Linked DNA regions of Homo sapiens: region 2 is linked to region 1. Evidence: fine-mapped expression QTL. A gene starts in region 1. The other region holds a variant in brackets. All regions are shown on one strand. Distances are between the middles of the regions.

Evidence for each region. PIP is the estimated chance that this variant, and not a neighbour inherited with it, causes the effect.
Region 2: its variant is fine-mapped to the expression of ENY2 in whole blood (INTERVAL, PIP 0.98).

Annotation. Positions count from the first base shown.
Region 1 is chr8:109,329,004-109,337,348 of GRCh38, reverse strand. ENY2 (ENY2 transcription and export complex 2 subunit) reads right to left here and starts at 3,002. Exons shown (of 5, transcript NM_020189.6): 1 at 2,875-3,002; 2 at 1,145-1,221. The coding sequence starts at 2,880. NUDCD1 (NudC domain containing 1) reads left to right here and starts at 3,262. Exons shown (of 10, transcript NM_032869.4): 1 at 3,262-3,456. The coding sequence starts at 3,339. RefSeq lists enhancers at 2,721-2,970, 2,236-3,158, 3,341-3,390, 3,521-3,570.
Region 2 is chr8:109,397,823-109,406,167 of GRCh38, reverse strand. It overlaps PKHD1L1 (PKHD1 like 1), which reads right to left. Exons shown (of 78, transcript NM_177531.6): 12 at 7,620-7,709; 13 at 5,824-6,092; 14 at 4,580-4,671; 15 at 1,455-1,614; 16 at 1,038-1,173. Among named protein-coding and RNA genes, the nearest start is that of PKHD1L1, 40 kb to the right of the region's middle. The variant G/T (reference allele first, on the strand shown) is at 3,528.

The sequences.
Region 1 (8,345 bases):
CAATCCGTACTCCTTACCAGCAGTACTATCCTCTAAAGCTACCCAAGGCAGTTATCGATGCCTCCTTCCTCATTTTGAGGGTTGCTGTTTCTACATTTTATTAAAATTCTAAGGTCTCCTTCCAATTTTTGGAGTTTTCCATTTTCAACCCTATATAATCTTCTACCTCATTTTTCTGCCATCTATCTTGTCCCCTTCAAGTCCAAGCTCCACACCAACAGAGTAAGATTCCTAAAGTGTAAATGTGATCTAGTCATTTCCTTTCTTAAAACTTTAAATGACTCCCATCATCCAAAAATAAAGTCAGCAACAGATGCACCTCTTTTTCTTATTGTGTGAGATCTTACATGATCACCTGAATGCCCGGGTTGAGTTGAAAGATTCCCCCTCTTCCTTATACATATTTGCCTCTTCCTTATACATATTTGTCTTACTCACTTTATAACCCTGCCTCTGGGAGCCTTTCTTGATTCCTCAGCCCCTTCTTTGTACTTCTAAACCTGTTGATTCTGCAAATATTTACGTGGCCAATTATGAACCAAACAAAGCATTAGATGCTGGGTATACAATGTTGTTTTTGGTGTTAAAGAACTTAGATTATACTGGAGGATACAAACTAGCCAAGTAGATTGTTAGAACACAATGTTGATTAAATGCTATGATGGAACAAGGTATTTGGGACTTAAAAACATTCCTTGAAGAGACAATATATAAATTAGACCTGATAGTTGAGCTAGAATTAGCTAAAAAGGAAGAGAAGGAAGAATGTTTTAGAGAGTGGAAACAGCACTTGCTGCTCCAAGGTTGAGAGCTTGGTAAATGAAGCTGGTTCCACAACATTGTCTCCCTGTTAAAACCCAGGTAACATTATGTCTCCAGTTGTAATTCAGGTATGTACTTTTTCTTCTCCATCAAATTACTCTTTAAGAGCCATATCTTGCTCATCTTTCTACATCACCACTTCCCTCCAAGTCCTGCAATACTTAACAAACCTAAATTATTTTTTCCAGATGTTCGGAATAGAAACTTTTATAATCTCAATTGTAATTCTTTCCAGTGACATGTTTCATTTCTTGTTTAGATTCTTACAAGCTAACTATTAAAGGCGGTGAAATGTAATTTATTAACACAATCTATTACTTACCGTTCTCTTTCTCCAGTTTCTATCAACTTTTGGTTAATCGCTGCTCTCATCTGCGCATCTTTGTTCATCTTGCTAACCTGGACATCAACATGTACTTTCAGATATAGAACATTTACAAAGCATTTTCTGCTAAATCCTCTAGGCAGGCATCCTAACATGTTTACCATTCTATTAACTGAAGGGGTGATACATTTCAAGTGTGTTAATAATATCATTACTCTTTATTAAACACTTATGTGCTTGGCACTGGGCTAATGCAGTGTGGGTTTGCTTTTTTTTAAACATCACATTTAATTCCCAGAACGTATTGTTACATATTTATATTAATAAAATAATCTGTATTTTACTGATGAGGAAACTGAGGCACAGAGATAGAAAGTGGAAAGGCAAAATTTGAACTCAAGTACTTTGACCCTAGGAGCTCCAAAACTGAACATAACTGCCGATCACTTCTGCAGAGACTGCATCCAAAAATTGGGAGAAGTCATACATACTAAACATCAAAAAAAGATTAAATACTATTAGTAAAAAAATAAAATTACCAGGCCGGGCACAGTGGGTCACACCTGTAATCCCAGCACTTTGGGAGGCCCAGGCAGGTGGATCACGAGGTCAGGAGTTCAAGACCAGCCTGACCAAGATGGTGAAACCCCGTCTCTACTAAAAATAGAAAAATAAGCTGGGCTTGGTGGCAGGTGTCTGTAATCCCAGCTACTCAGGAGGCTGAGGCAGGAGAATCGCTTGAACCCAGGAGACAGAGGTTGCAGTGAGCCGACATTGCGCTGCTGCACTCCAGCCTGGGTGACAGGGCAAGACTCTGTCTCAAAAAAAAAAAAAAAAATTAATTAATCAAAAAAAATAAAATTACTAGATAAGGCTCTAAGTGTTTTGCTTTACTCTTCACTAGGATGAACCCACAATTACAACTGCTAAACCTAAGTGTGTGGATGTGTGTGTTTACACACACACTGCTGGTGGGATAAGAAGAAAACAAATCTCAAACTAATTCCTAACTTACAAAGTCCTCAATTGTCAGTAAAAACAGACAACCCAAACCAAAATGATGTTGAAAGAAGAGGAAAGTTAGGTTTTGAAAGCGTTAAAGCCACTTAAAAGTTTAAATTAAATAAAACTTGGCGTAAACTAACGTTTTCCCACCTAATCTGTCACTAACTTGAGATTACTTTTGTTGTCTTCCATCTGGCCTATTGAAAATTCAGACTGGCAATGAGTTACCAGAGTTGATTTTTTTTTTCTTTTTTGAGAGGAACAGGGAAAAGGAGAAGTTGAGTGAGAACTAGGAAATGCTTGCTTTTGTAATTGGAGGCTAACATTTTCAAAATAACTACAAGGTCTAGTCAGTACCACTCCTGGAATATTGAACTTGATCTCGTCTTGGCTCCTAAAATACGGATAGTGACCTTGGACAAGTCACTTAATTCTTAAAGGCCTCAGTTTTCTCACTGGTAAAACAAGGGCGCTAGGGTATCCCTCCCAGTTCAGACATTCTTAGGGAAAATAGAACAGGGCGGAGACAGCGGGAGAGGCGGGAGAGGAGGAGCCAGAAAACAAAGCGAGGACTGGTTTCAGGCCAACTCCGGTAGCACGCCCTGTCGGAGAGCCCTACAGGCCCGCGAGCGCGGGTCGGGGACGCTAACGAAAGACAGTACATCGAAAGGAGCCTGGGCTGGGCCCGGGTCCCGGCCCTGAGGACCACGGGCATAGCTCACCACCATCACCGCGGGCGAGGGCCGTCCCTTCCCAGCGACGAAATGACCCTTGCGCTGAGGACCGTTACCTACCACACTCTTCGGCTGCCCGGACTTAGACCCTCAGTAGCTCGGGCACCTAAGCACACAGAAAGCTAGAACACGCATTTCCGGGGCGGGGTCTCGCCACCCTGCCTATAATGTGAGAATTTAACCAGCGCGGGCCGCCTCCTGGTTGCTAGGGCCTCTGGGTAACAGAGTTCAGACCTTGCCGTCGCGCGCGCGTTAAGTACCAGGAGAACTACATAGCCCAGCATGCAACAGTCTCAACTTTTTCACGGACACTACATTTCCCAGAAGGCAGTTCGCACCGCAGTGTTTTCTGGGATGGGAACCACGCCGCTTCCCAGTCTCTGTGCGAGGCGTGAAGCGCGGACCTTTCAACAAGGGCTTTATTAATTCTCACGCTGCGGCCCTGGAAAGCGATGGAGGTGGCGGCTAATTGCTCCCTACGGGTGAAGAGACCTCTGTTGGATCCCCGCTTCGAGGGTTACAAGCTCTCTCTTGAGCCGCTGCCTTGTTACCAGCTGGAGCTTGACGCAGGTGGGAAGCGGCGGCGCCCTTCGTACTCCGTTCCTTTCCCCTTTCGGCTGCCTCCGGCCTGACCCTTCCCGCAATTTCTTTCTTTCTGACTGGCAAGCGAAGCCACCGTGGCGGCTTGCGTGGACTCACGGAGGCCGCTGCTTCTGGGGAATGATGCCCATCCCAGAACCCGGTGGGAGCCGCCTTCGCGCGCTCTTCGGTAACGGGACCCTGGGCCCCCTCCGTCAGCAGCCCAGCCTCTGAGGTCTGAGGTCTGAGGGCTGGCGTGCGGGTAGTGCCTGGGGCTCTGGCTGCTGTGTGTCCACAGCCTGGCTTCTGTTTCGGGGGACGCTGAGAACATTCCTTCCTCCTGGAGCATCGCTTGTGAACGTGTGCGTTGAGAAACCACACCTCCTTGGAGGACCCCCAGTTCCTGTTTCCTCTGACCGAGAGCCGTTTCTTAGAAGAGAAACTACATTCCAGTCATAGCATTTTTAATTACTCAGTTCCTGGCACATTAAGAACTCTGGTAGAGAACATCTCTAGAAGATAGTGAGGAAAAGTGGATTTACTCCCACACTGCTACTCCTTGCTTTATCTGTAGCTGGTAGAATATCCTTACTCTTGTTTTTACAACTTAACGGCATTTTCGTTATGATAGAGCCCAGAGATCTGCATTTTAAAATTCACACCCCTGCTGATTCTGATGCATGTTTTCAGAGATCACACTTTGAGAAATAGTGATCTACAGTTAATTATAATAACAGACATTAAAGTATAAAATAAGTTTATGCTAATTGATTTATTAAATTCAGAAATATTTACCGAGTACCTGTTTTGTGTTACGTCCTGATAATATCAAAATGAACAAGACACCTTCCGTAACAAAAGAGGACTATTAGCTAGTTAGGAAGAAAATTGTAAACAGATAATTGTAAAACAATATGGGAAGGCAGTGATAGGGATATGTACAAAATACAATGGTAGTACTTGAATATCTTTCCTAAACTAGTCTGGGGATCTGGGAAGGCGTCTTGGAGGAGTTAATATCTAAGTTGAGCTTTGAAGGGTAGGTTAAGAGTTGACTAGGATGAGAGAGGATAAGCTTGATTTTTCTTTTTATTTTTTTCCTTTTCCTCTTTGCCACCGTGTTTCTTCCAGTCACCCCATGTCAGTAGATGGTATCACCATGTTTAGTTAGTGCATTAGAAAGTGAAGCCAAAATTCAGTGTCTCAAAACAAGAAGCAGTTATTATTGCTCACAAGTCTACGGGTCAGCTGAGTGGTTCTTCTAGTCCTAGTTGGGCTCATTGATGCATCCTTGTTCAGTAATGGATCTGCTGGGAAGCTCTGCTCATTTGGCTGGACTTCCTCATATGTTTGGAGGGTGGGGGTAGGGTCTCAGACTATAAGCTTGTTTAAGATTCTTTCACATGGTCTCCTCTTGACTTTTCTCCGTGTGGTCTCTTATCCTTTAGCCGACTAGACTAGCCCAGGTTGGTACCAAGAGACACTTGTGCCAGAGTCATTTGGGGTTTATTTCTTTTAGCCACTGTCTGCTTGGTAGCAAGTCCGGTCAGCTCCACATTTTGATATCTCTAGGCCTCCACCCTAATCCAAATCAGAGTTATCTCTTACCTGAACTCTAGTAGCCTCCTGACTAGCCTTCCTGCCTTCACTTTTGGGCTTCGTCATTGCATTCTCCATAAGACGTACTTATCGGCCTTTTAAATTCTATCTTGATTTGTTGTCTGTTTCCTCCACTAGACTATGAGTTCCTTGAAAACAGTGATGTTTTTCTTTTGTTCACTACCCTATATCTAGTGCTTGGCACATAGGATGTATTCAATAAAATGAGTATATGAAGAAGAGAAGAAATTGTTGAGGTCATTCCATTCATGGGAAAGCATGAGGAAAGGGAAATAATTAGTAGGTTGTATGCTGGACATCCTTGCACTCTTATATTGCTGGAGCAAAACGTCTGGGAAAGTGAGAGGAAATAAATCAGTGAGGGCCTTGTTTGCCTTTTGGATTTCTTGGATTTCCGGTCATTCAGTGTTTCCCTGACATTTTTGTATTGAGCCATTACAATATAAAATAAAACTCAGCTGCTGTAGTTCTGCCAACTTTTCTGTTTACTAGGTGGAGATGTTTCTTAAAAACTATCATTTACTCATCTATCTTTTCATAAACAAAAGGATATTTTAACACCAAAAAAGCAGGAAGCAAAATCTCACAATAAACAATCCATTGAATACTTTAACTTTAGAAAAAATTCACAAAGTTGTCCTTGTTCCGTACTCATTTCATCAGCGTTAATCTTAGATTCTGTGTTTGGGATGTACAGCTGCAGGATATCAGGTGCCATTTGAAGATTTTTTTTTTTTTTTTTTTTTTTGAGTCTGAGTCTTGCTCTATTGCGGAGGCTGGACTGTAGTAGTGTGATCTCGTCTCATTGCAACCTCTGCCTTCCGGGTTCAGGCGATTCTCCTGCCTCAGCCTCCCGAGTAGTTGGGATTACAGGCGCCCGCCACCATGCCCAGCTAATTTTTGTTTGTTTCTTTTTGTTTTTGTTTTGTTTTTTGAGACGGAGTCTCTGTCGTTGAGGCTGGAGTGCAGTGGCGCGATCTCAGCTCACTGCAACTTCCGCCTCCCGGGTTCAAGCAGTTCTCTGCCCCAGCCTCTGGAGTAGCTGGGATTACAAGTGCCCGCCACCAAGCCCAGCTAATTTTTGTATTAGAGACGGAGTTTTACTATCTTGGCCAAGCTGGTCTTGAACTCCTGACCTCGCGATCCACCTGCCTCGGCCTCCCAAAGTGCTGGGATTAACAGGCCTGAGCCACTGCTCCGACCGATTTTTTTTTTTCTTTGAAGTTCCGGGGTACATGTGCAGGATGTGCAGGTTTGGTACATAGGTAAACGTGTGCCATGGTGGTTTGCTGCACCCGTCAACCCATCACCTAGGTATTAAGCCCAGCATGCATTAGCAATTTTTCCTAATGCTCTCCCTCCCCCTACCCCATTCTCTGACAGACCACAGTGTGTGTTGTTCCCCTCCCTGTGTCCATGTGATCTCATTATTCAGCTCCCACTTACAAGTGAGAACATGTGGTGTTTTGTGTTCTGTTCCTTCGTTGGTTTGTTGAGGACAGTGGCTTCCAGCTCCTTCCATGTCCCTTTGAAGGATATGATTGTGTTCCTTTTTATGGCTGCATAGTATTCCATGGCGTATGTGTACCACATTTTAAGTACAAGGGACGTGAACAGATACGGGAGTTGAAAAGCTTACCTCAGACTCTGTGGAGGTTGAGTTTGGAAGATGAGATGACTGCACACAGCAGATAGGAGGCTTTTGCAATAGTTCACATGATGAGTTTTTCATTAGGAATTACTTGAGGATGATGAAAAAGATTATTTTGTTTAAAAACTATCATTTCTAGAGATAGTGAAGCATAATTGAGGCGCTTCTGGTAATTTGATTTCTTTTATTCTAACTGAAGGAGTTCACTTTAGTTCCACAAACCTTTGATGGGCACCTTGGCTACCTGAAACACTGCATTTAAGATGTAAAGATGATGTGGTCTCTGGTGTCAAGAACTTGATGCAATGAGGCTTATTCTCTTGTCTTAAATAATGTTATTAAGTTGTACCAAAATTTCCTTTGCTACATAAGCAGTAAATGTCACTTTGTCTTTTTCTATTCCAAAGAACGAAACAAAAAACTTATTTTTAATCAAATTGTAATTGTCTTTTGATCCGGCAATTTCCTTCCTAGGCATTTATAAATATCCTTTTCCTAGAATCTTCATTTAGTACAAGTCTTTTTATATGTTTTTATATGTTTCCCAGCTATATTTCACCTAGCTAATTCATACTTCATTCTTTCATGTTGGCTTACATGTTACTTCCTCAGGGATTCCTTTCTTGACTAGTCAGAATCTACACTATAGAATCTGTATTATGCGTTGCCATAGTAACCAGTACTTCATAGACTTTATCATACTTCGTAGCATCCAGTATGTTTTCTTTGCTAAGATTATTGATTTTGTATTGAAGGGTCCCATGTCCATCGTTTTCAATGCTTTATCTCCAGGGTTGGAGCATGCCTGGTAAGTAGGACATAAATTTGTCTCACAAATTAAACAGCTTTATGAAGACATAATTGACAATAAACTACAAATTTAAAATGTACAACTTAAGAAGTTGTGATATATGTATACACCCGTGAAATCATCACCACAATCAAGATACTAAACTTAGCTATCATTCCCAAAGTTTCCTTGTACCCTTCTGTAACCATCTCTCTGCTCCTTCTGCATTCTAGGTTGACAGTTTTTTCTTTCAATGCTTTAAAGTTATAGCCTCAGTCTTGCTTATATTGTTTCTGATGAGAAATCTCACATTATCCTATCTTTGTTGCTCTATACATAACATGCCTTTTTTCTTCTGTTTTAAGATTTTTCTCTTTTACATTGGTTTTGAGCAGTTTGATAATATTGTGGCCAGCTGTGGTTTTCTTTATGATTCTTATGTTTGGGGTTTGTTGGGCTATAAACTGCGGACATATAGTTTTTATCAAGATCAATGGCAATATTTTGGCTATTATTTCTTCCAACTTTTTCCCCTCCTTTTCTCCTTTGAAGACTCCAGTTACACATTTTTAGATCACAGAAGTTGGTCTCAGCTCATGAATGCCCGTTTCATTTTTTCTTCATACTTTTTTCTGTTTTATTGCCAATAGTTTCCATTTTCATGCCTTTAGTTCCGTTTACTTTTTTTTTTTGTAATATTAGTCTCTTGTTAATCCCATCTGGTGTATTTTTCATCTTGGACATTGTAATATTCACATCTAGAAGTTTGATTTAAATCTTTTGCATCTTTCTTGCTTCTACTTACTTATGTTGAACATA
Region 2 (8,345 bases), 69 kb before region 1:
GTAATATTGACTATTTAATTAATTTGTGATCTCTTTGAGGACAGGGCTGATATTTTATTGTTTTAATATTCCCACAGTAATAATCATTGGATTTGGCAAAGAATAAGCAATCATCAATATTTACTGGTTAAAACAATTAACAGTAGTAGCAAAAGTTGTATTTTAGGATTTATTGTAAAATATAGAAATGCAATGTTGTTTATTGGCTGATAAATTGGTGTTCCATAGGCCTATCATTTAATTTAAAAAATTGAAAGACATGTTTACTTCTGTGCAATGATGAATTTAATTCCTTTTAAATTTTTTATTTTTATTGTAAGTTCTGGGGTACATGTGCAGGATGTGCATGTTTGTTACATAGGTAAACGTATGTCATGGTGGTTTGCTGCACCTATCAACCCATCATCACCTAGGTATTAAGCCCAGTATGCATTAGCTATTTTTCCTAACCTAATGCCCTCCCCGTGCCGACCCCACCCCCCAACAGGCCCCAGTGTGTGTTGTTCCCCTCCCTGTGTCCATGTGTTCTCATTGTTCAGCTCCCACTTATAAGTGAGAACATGCAGTGTTTGGTTTTCTGTTCCTGAGTTAGTTTGTTGAGGAAGTGGCTTTAAGCTCCATCCATGTCCCTGAAAAGGACATGATCTCATCCCTTTTTATGGCTGCATAGTATTCTATGGTGTACCACATTTTCTTTATCCAGTCTATCATTGACGGGCATTTGGGTTGACTATTCACAATTCCTATTTTCTTAACTTACACCTATGAGTAGCAAATATATAAATTCCATGTGCATTTAGATATATATTTATCATTATTATTAGAAAATGATGGTATATGCCACAAAGTTATTTGTATGGATGTCATTTTCTATCCCAGTCTGAAGGCTTTTTTCCATAATACATTTTTCTGCTTCTTTGTCTAGCATATCATCAAAACTATATTTTCCAGACAGTGTAATTTGACTACAGCAAATACTTTATGACTACATCTATACATGAACAGAAACAGTATCTCCCTTATTATTTATAACTTACCAGTTTTTTCCATATTATAGATTAATCTATATTGGTAAAGTGAACATGAATTAGCTTCCACACATGGGCTGGTTACCTTGATCTTCTGAACCTCATTAATTGCATTAGTTGTTTCCCAGTTTTCCAATGTTATAACCTATTTTCCAATTAAGAAACATTTTTAATATATGAAAAATATATATATCTTAAAAGCATCATAATTCAGCTATTCAATGCCACTTTATTGCTCTATTTTACTACAAATGACAAGTAACAGCCTTTTTGGCTTATCGTACAAATACTCAAAGTCATAATTTAATAATTGTCCATGACTGCTTTCACCTAAAACAGTATCTTACCTAGTAAAATTAATAATCAAATTGAGATCCTGCCTTCGAACATTTACTTTCTGTAAGAGGAACTGCAATCATAGCAAACCTGTACTTCCTGGAGGATTGTCGACTGGGATTTGATAACTTGTTCTTCATTCACTGCATCTCCTGTTTGTTGTTCAGTATAAACATTTCGATACTGGTACAGTCCAACATCAACAAATGCACTTAATCTGTACTCCTGCAGCAAGATTTCAATATAGTATCTGGAAAATAGAGTAACTAATGAATATAACTTTTTTCCAGAACACTTGCCATGAAATTATTTTAATGAATAAAATATCAATATTATCTTAAAAGCCTGCCTGTTAAATGACTTATATTGTAGTATCTCATATTTTAAATATTCAAATGTTAAAATTTTCACAGCATTTTGCCAAAATAAAATGAATTATGTAAGATATCTGCATTAGTAGAAAGTTGTTCTCATTCATAACCAATTCATTCAGCTTAGTCAATAAATATTTATAGAAGACAATACTATTTCTTATACTCAACATCTTGAAAAATAACCCTGTCCCTGGTATATAACACAGACAACATGCAGAGGTTAAATATTTTAATGTGTTCAAGAAAATGGCAGGCTTAGACATAGCATATATTTTATATCTGAGTAGTTATATTTGTCAGGAGTAGAAGTTCCTACTTTCACATTCCTTAAATTTGGCTCCATTTGTAACTTGGGGAATAAAACATTGCCTCAGGAAACTTTTACCGGTCAGATTTACTATGATCCTCCAATTAGCTGGATGGGATTTTCACTTTATATTTTGAATTCCTGATTCTTGATGTCTCCTGCCCCTCATCCTACTGTGTACCCAAGGTAGTGCCTTCACTGAGCAGCTGTTAACAAGAGAGTGCAAAACTACTACTTCTCCTCTAAATCTCTAGCAATGTCACCATTGCTCACATCTTTGGAGAGGACAGCTGGGAGCTTCCCTAAATTGTCTCACATCACTCAACATATATTCTTATATAGGAAGAATAAGTATCCACAGTTCATGAAAGAGTCTGAATGAGGGAAATTTATCATGTTTCATATGTGTAGAATGATAGGGTTCTGGATCATTGCCCAATGGAACTGATATTTGGGGATTATATCAGGCTCTTGACTTCCATAAGAACCTGCTCATCAGCTCTTCTGACTTGAGATGACCAACACTAATTAAAGAGCAGAATTCAAAGAAGAACCATTAAAATTTTGCATCCTTACTTGTGGCTTAAAACTATTAATTGGGCACTTTCTTTGTGCTAGACAATAAACTAAGCACTTTGCAGACATTATTACGTTTAATCTTCACAAAATTCTCATAAAATAGATATTATTCCTTTATCCATATGAATAACAAATGCTAAGGGAATTTTAAGGATTCAAAATTTTTTAAACTAGTAACTGAGGGAGAATTCCAAACAAAATAAGGTGACCAAAAAGATATGCACTAGGTGAAGCTATGTTTTTAATATTTGAGTAAAATGATTTAGCAATATGAGCTACCTTTGGAAAGACTTGAAGAGCCACTTTACAATAAACCAGCTAGAGTGGCCTCAATTTCAGATTTCATAGCCATCATTGTAAGCACAGTATGTAAATTCCAAGCTGGTTTTGCAGGAGCACAGATACCAGGCAGCAGATGTATTAGGAGTTGCTTTCATTCAAACTCTGTGCTCCTGCCTAGCTGGTAGACTGAACTCATTTTCCAAAACCAAGCCAAAGTCTGAAAATGTACTGACACTTAATTGCAGTAGGGATTAATCAAGAACTCCATTTATCTTGACCTGGCCCAGTAGTTTTCATGGTTATAGAAGAAAATGTTTAATGTCTAAAGAAGTGAAAGCAGAAGAAAGAGGATAAAAAAGGAATGAAACTCTTTCCCCATGTCAGTATTACTAAGACCTCAGCAAGAACATTGAGTGTGAGAACATTAATTTGCTCCCAGGTTCCATTGATCCCAACCCTCCTTGTCCAATTCCAAAAGATCCTCATGATGCTGCCTCTGAGCATAACTTCTTCAATATCTGAAAGGGTGATGTGGTAAACTTAAAAGAAAAAAGCACTCCTCCCATCAAGAAGGGAAGTCTATTTCTTCATCCTTGAGTCTAGGCTTGGCCACTTGCTTTG[G/T]GCAATGGGATATTAGCAAATATGACACAGACAGAGTATTGCAGAGTGTGTGTGCATTAGGACTCCCCTCTTTACTGCACCTATCAACCCATCATCACCTAGGTATTAAGCCCAGTATGCATTAGCTATCCACAATGTGACAAACCGGGGCTAGTCTCCTGGATGATGAGAGACCATGTGCAATGGGATGCCCCAAATATCTAAGACTCAACCATGCCTGCTGAGGCTCTAGACATGGAGTGAGGCATTCTAGGTTACCAGTCCCCAAATAAACCAGCCAGGACTAAAAGAACCGCTCAGCCAACTATAAAATTGTGCAAAATAATTCACACTTGTTTGATGTTGCTACAGTCTGAGGTGCTTTGTTATATAGTAAAGTCTAGCAGATGCAAATGCATCTTTTGATGTTCTTCATGTAACTCCATTCCACCACCTTCTCCATTTTCAATGTATCATGTCTTTTATCTTCCTGTTTCCTAGGAATTCTGAATGGCTTTTTGAATGGGATTATCTGGTATTTGGATGATAATCCCACTCATTGGCTCCTTGGACTTGACCTTTCAACACTAAATGAATGCTCTTTCAGTTCTGGCAGTGTATTTTAATATTCTTAAATTTCCAGTACCTGGCCCAGGGCCTGGAATAAACCAGTTAATAACAAATACATATTAAAAGTGGCAACAATCTATGTGGCTTAGTGATTTTTCCCTAGCAATACTGAAGAGCTCAGCTGCAGGAACAGAGAAATTAAATGGGTGGATTGACTGAAAGGTCCAAGTAAAGAACTAAGAACAGGATCAAGTACATTTCACAAAAGTATAATTTTGCAACAGGGTTAATCTAGACTTCAAATTTCCCTGGTTAGTTGAATGCCAGTATTCTTGAAAATCAAGAAACACATTTGAATAAAATTATAGAGAATGACCAATTATAAATTAAACCAATAAACTAATATCACTTCCACCAATAAAAATAAATTGAAAATATTTTAAAATATAAACTTAAAGCTTATAAATACCACACAGTAATTTAATGACAGGAAAAAGCCTTACTCTTTTCCTTTCTGCAGATGAATATCATCTGATCTTTGTGTTGGACTGGAAAAATAACTGTTGGCATTAGCAGAATGATATGCAATCCTCACCTAATCCGAGAGAGACAGAGACAGAGAAAAGGGAGAATTTATTAATAGACCTTTTCAACATTTATTTATTTATCATTTATTATTTCAGTTTTAGAAGTTTCATAAGTAGAAAAATGTAAAACTACTTTATATTTTTCTTTTAAGATCTGTTATCTACTATGCTATAAATTTTTTTTAAATTATCAAAGTTCACTTCATTCCTTCTACCATTCACTAACATCAACACTACTGTACTAAGTATACTACGCAGATCATAGCTTTTCCATAATTAGAACTGCAGTGGAAACTAAGAAGATACTTACCAGGAAAAAGGTAGTTATTGACAAATAAAATATTCTTTTGCTCTGTGGAGAACTTTGAGAGATTTAATCCAAATTAGATTGCCAAAGATTGCTAAATGGTTCTGCACACTAGAGTGAGAGGACTTTGGGCTTCCCATTAGGAATGATTATACCACCTTTGGAGTACACATGCTTTGGAGTACAAACTATGATAAAAATTAGAATTCATAAATTACAGATAGCAATTTAAACTTACACAACCAGTTTGGGAAGCAATCTTGCCACATAAGTTGAGTCATAAAATGTTACTTTGATTTGATCTGTTAGTTTCATATTTGTGAAACTGTCCTAACAAAGTAACCCCAAATACAGAAAAGTCTAATGATCATAGATGTTCAATAGAGTATTATTTGTGGTCATAAAACACCAGAAGTAAATAAAAACTTATCAGTAGGGAGATGGTTATCTAAGCTTGGTAAACCCAAGTAATAACACTGCTTAGTCATTAAAACTAGTGATTACATAAATTATTTAATAAAATTAGTATTTAATACTAATATGTGAAAAACTACATATGAAATTAAATGTATAATTCTATTTATAAAAAATAGAGAGATGAATTTTATCTCATAACCAAGTTAATGTAGAATAATGAAATATTTTCAGGTACGGGAAATTTTCTTGTAGGCTATAGGTTTTCTATCATCTTATATCTTGTATCATATCCAGGATAATAGCCAAGAGCCAAACCACATGACATCATTTCTCATACATTTTAAAAATGTTCATTCGTTTTGATTTAGAGTAAGATACATATAAATATCACCATAATGTTTTTACAGTATCAAATAGTATTCTGAGGCTTCCCTACCTTATCTTCTGGAAGTCCAGTCTGGCTAAAATAAATAGCATAACGGTCATCACCCTTGATGTAGAATCTATAAACATCAGAATCTGGAGCCACCAAAAATCCACTAAAGCGTGCAACAAATGTGTCTTGTTCCATGAGCCAAATATAGGAAGCTGAATCTACCCAACTGGCACCCATGTACCCAGGCGTTTTTTCATTGTATTCCAGTATCTCTTCCAAACGTATTGGACGGCTATTATTCCACACCTCAAGCTTCAGGCCTCTCCCTCCTAAGTGTAATGAAATAAAATAAGACTTTCATCAGGATCATAATGCAATGCCTCAATGGCTTTCTATTTGGATGTTGGTTATAGATTTTGTATATCAATTCATATTTTTAGTATGTGTGCAGACAAAACAATTACACATTCCCCTACACGTATCTGCAGCCAGAGGGCAGTCTGTAATTTGTTCATTATTACTTCACTTATTTGAGCCTCAGTTTCCACATATGTAAAATGGGAGTAATAATAATATTTGCATGGGTGCTATAGGGATTATGTATAATACACATGTAAAACAGCTGGCATTTAAAAAGTGCTTTATGTAAGATAATATATAGTAATTATTATGATATAACTGATGTTGCGAAACTTCAAGATTCATGCCATTTTATTACAAAACCTTTGCCTTGACTATTCTAACAAAAGTAAATTAATGGCTTACAAAGCCATTAATCAGAGAAGAGAAATTGTTGGCTTTCAGATTTCTCTCAATGTTTGTTTTACTTTTTAAAAAAAACATTACTTCTACTCTAGGATTTCTTCTCCTTCTTGGACAGAATCAAAAACAGGATACTCTCAATAAACTGTACCTATACTTGCCAGAATAAACCCTGTGATTAAATTTTTTCCTAATCAGAAAAGAGCCATCTCTCTTTTTTTTTTCCTTCAACTGCAACAACAATTAGGCTTACTTCTTCCTTTAGCAGCCTTAAGCTTTTCTGTATGTGGAAAATAATGGCTACCCTTCTTCAGCTGAATTTGGTTGAAGATAAGCTTTGAGCACTTCAAACTTTCACAGAAGCAGTGTCTAGTGATATACACAATTTTCTTTAAAGTCATCAATTATAAATTATCAAAATTATTTTCTTAAACTGTTCATTTTTTTCTAATATTCAAACCAAACAAATTTAAGAGGTTCATAAACGATTCATTTGGCTTCAAATGTGAAACAATGACACGATTATAAACAACATTCACGGTGCGAACAAGATATGAGATACACACCACACGCAGACACATGTACAGCATTTCAATGATATTAGTGTAGATAGGAAAGCAATTTCACTGAGCCACAAGGTGTAAGTCTGAAAAGAATTTAGAGTAACATTTCTCTCATCTCCTGTTTTCACTCCCACATTATTCTAGACAAGTGAATATTTAACTTCCCCTATTTATCTTTTTTTAATCAGAAAAAGGCATTTAAAAAATTTCTATGTAGACTATACCAAGTTTTAGTTATCATAATTTAATTAGAAATAAAAGCATAATTAAACTCTGTCAGTAGAGATGTGCTATTTTCAGTAGGGTGTCTTGATAATTTAGGCTGGGTTTTTCTCCATAGGTACAGCTTTGTGGCAGCTATTTTAATAGAAATATTTTCTAATCCAGAAAATGTAAATTTTAAAACTTGGAGGAAATTTCTTACAATTCTTACTACAAATTCTAAATTCTAAAAATTTAAATAATATTTTTTACTAATATATTCTTTTTATGTGAATATAGAAATGGCCATTGTCCCTTATGGTAACTTACCTGGATATACAGTTTTGAGAATATGAGGTTTGGGGGGTGTCTTGCAACATATACTATTTTCTGTGACATTCAAAATATCACAAGGTTCACCTATAGAGAAGCAAGATACAAAACCGTTACTACTGAAACTTCAGAATGCAAATCACATCAGTGTATCTTTAAGCACTTTTGCAATTAAAACAAAGTTGCATAAACAAGAGGCAAAATTAGGGCTCTTTATTTCCTTTACATATTCTCTATTAAAGCTTTTCACATAATAATTGTCATACTTCCAAAAAGCAACATTTTTTTCTGGTGGAAAATCACAAGACTGAGATAGAAAATTTCATAATTTCTGAGATAAAAAATTTGATAATACTATGTCTTTGCACAAAATGTTACTTCTGAATTCAAAGTAAAAACTTATATTTTGTTCCTTGGAGAGAAGTTGCTGAATAAACCCATGTCATTCAGAATTTGCAAAGGTAGATGACCCTAGACCTCTTCAGTAGAAAAAAGTGCTGGCTTAGTCCAAGTTCTTCAAATGAAAAAAAAAGGGGGATAATAATTGTTAAATGGCATTTTCACAGACAGACTGAAACCAAAACAGGAAAAAAGGCTAAAAGATAGCTATTGTAACTTTTACATAAGCACAATTAGACTTAGGAGAAGAGTCTATGTTTTAAACCTCCATGTGTTCCTCACAATGCCTCACATATGGTCAGCCCTCAGAAAGTATTCACTGAA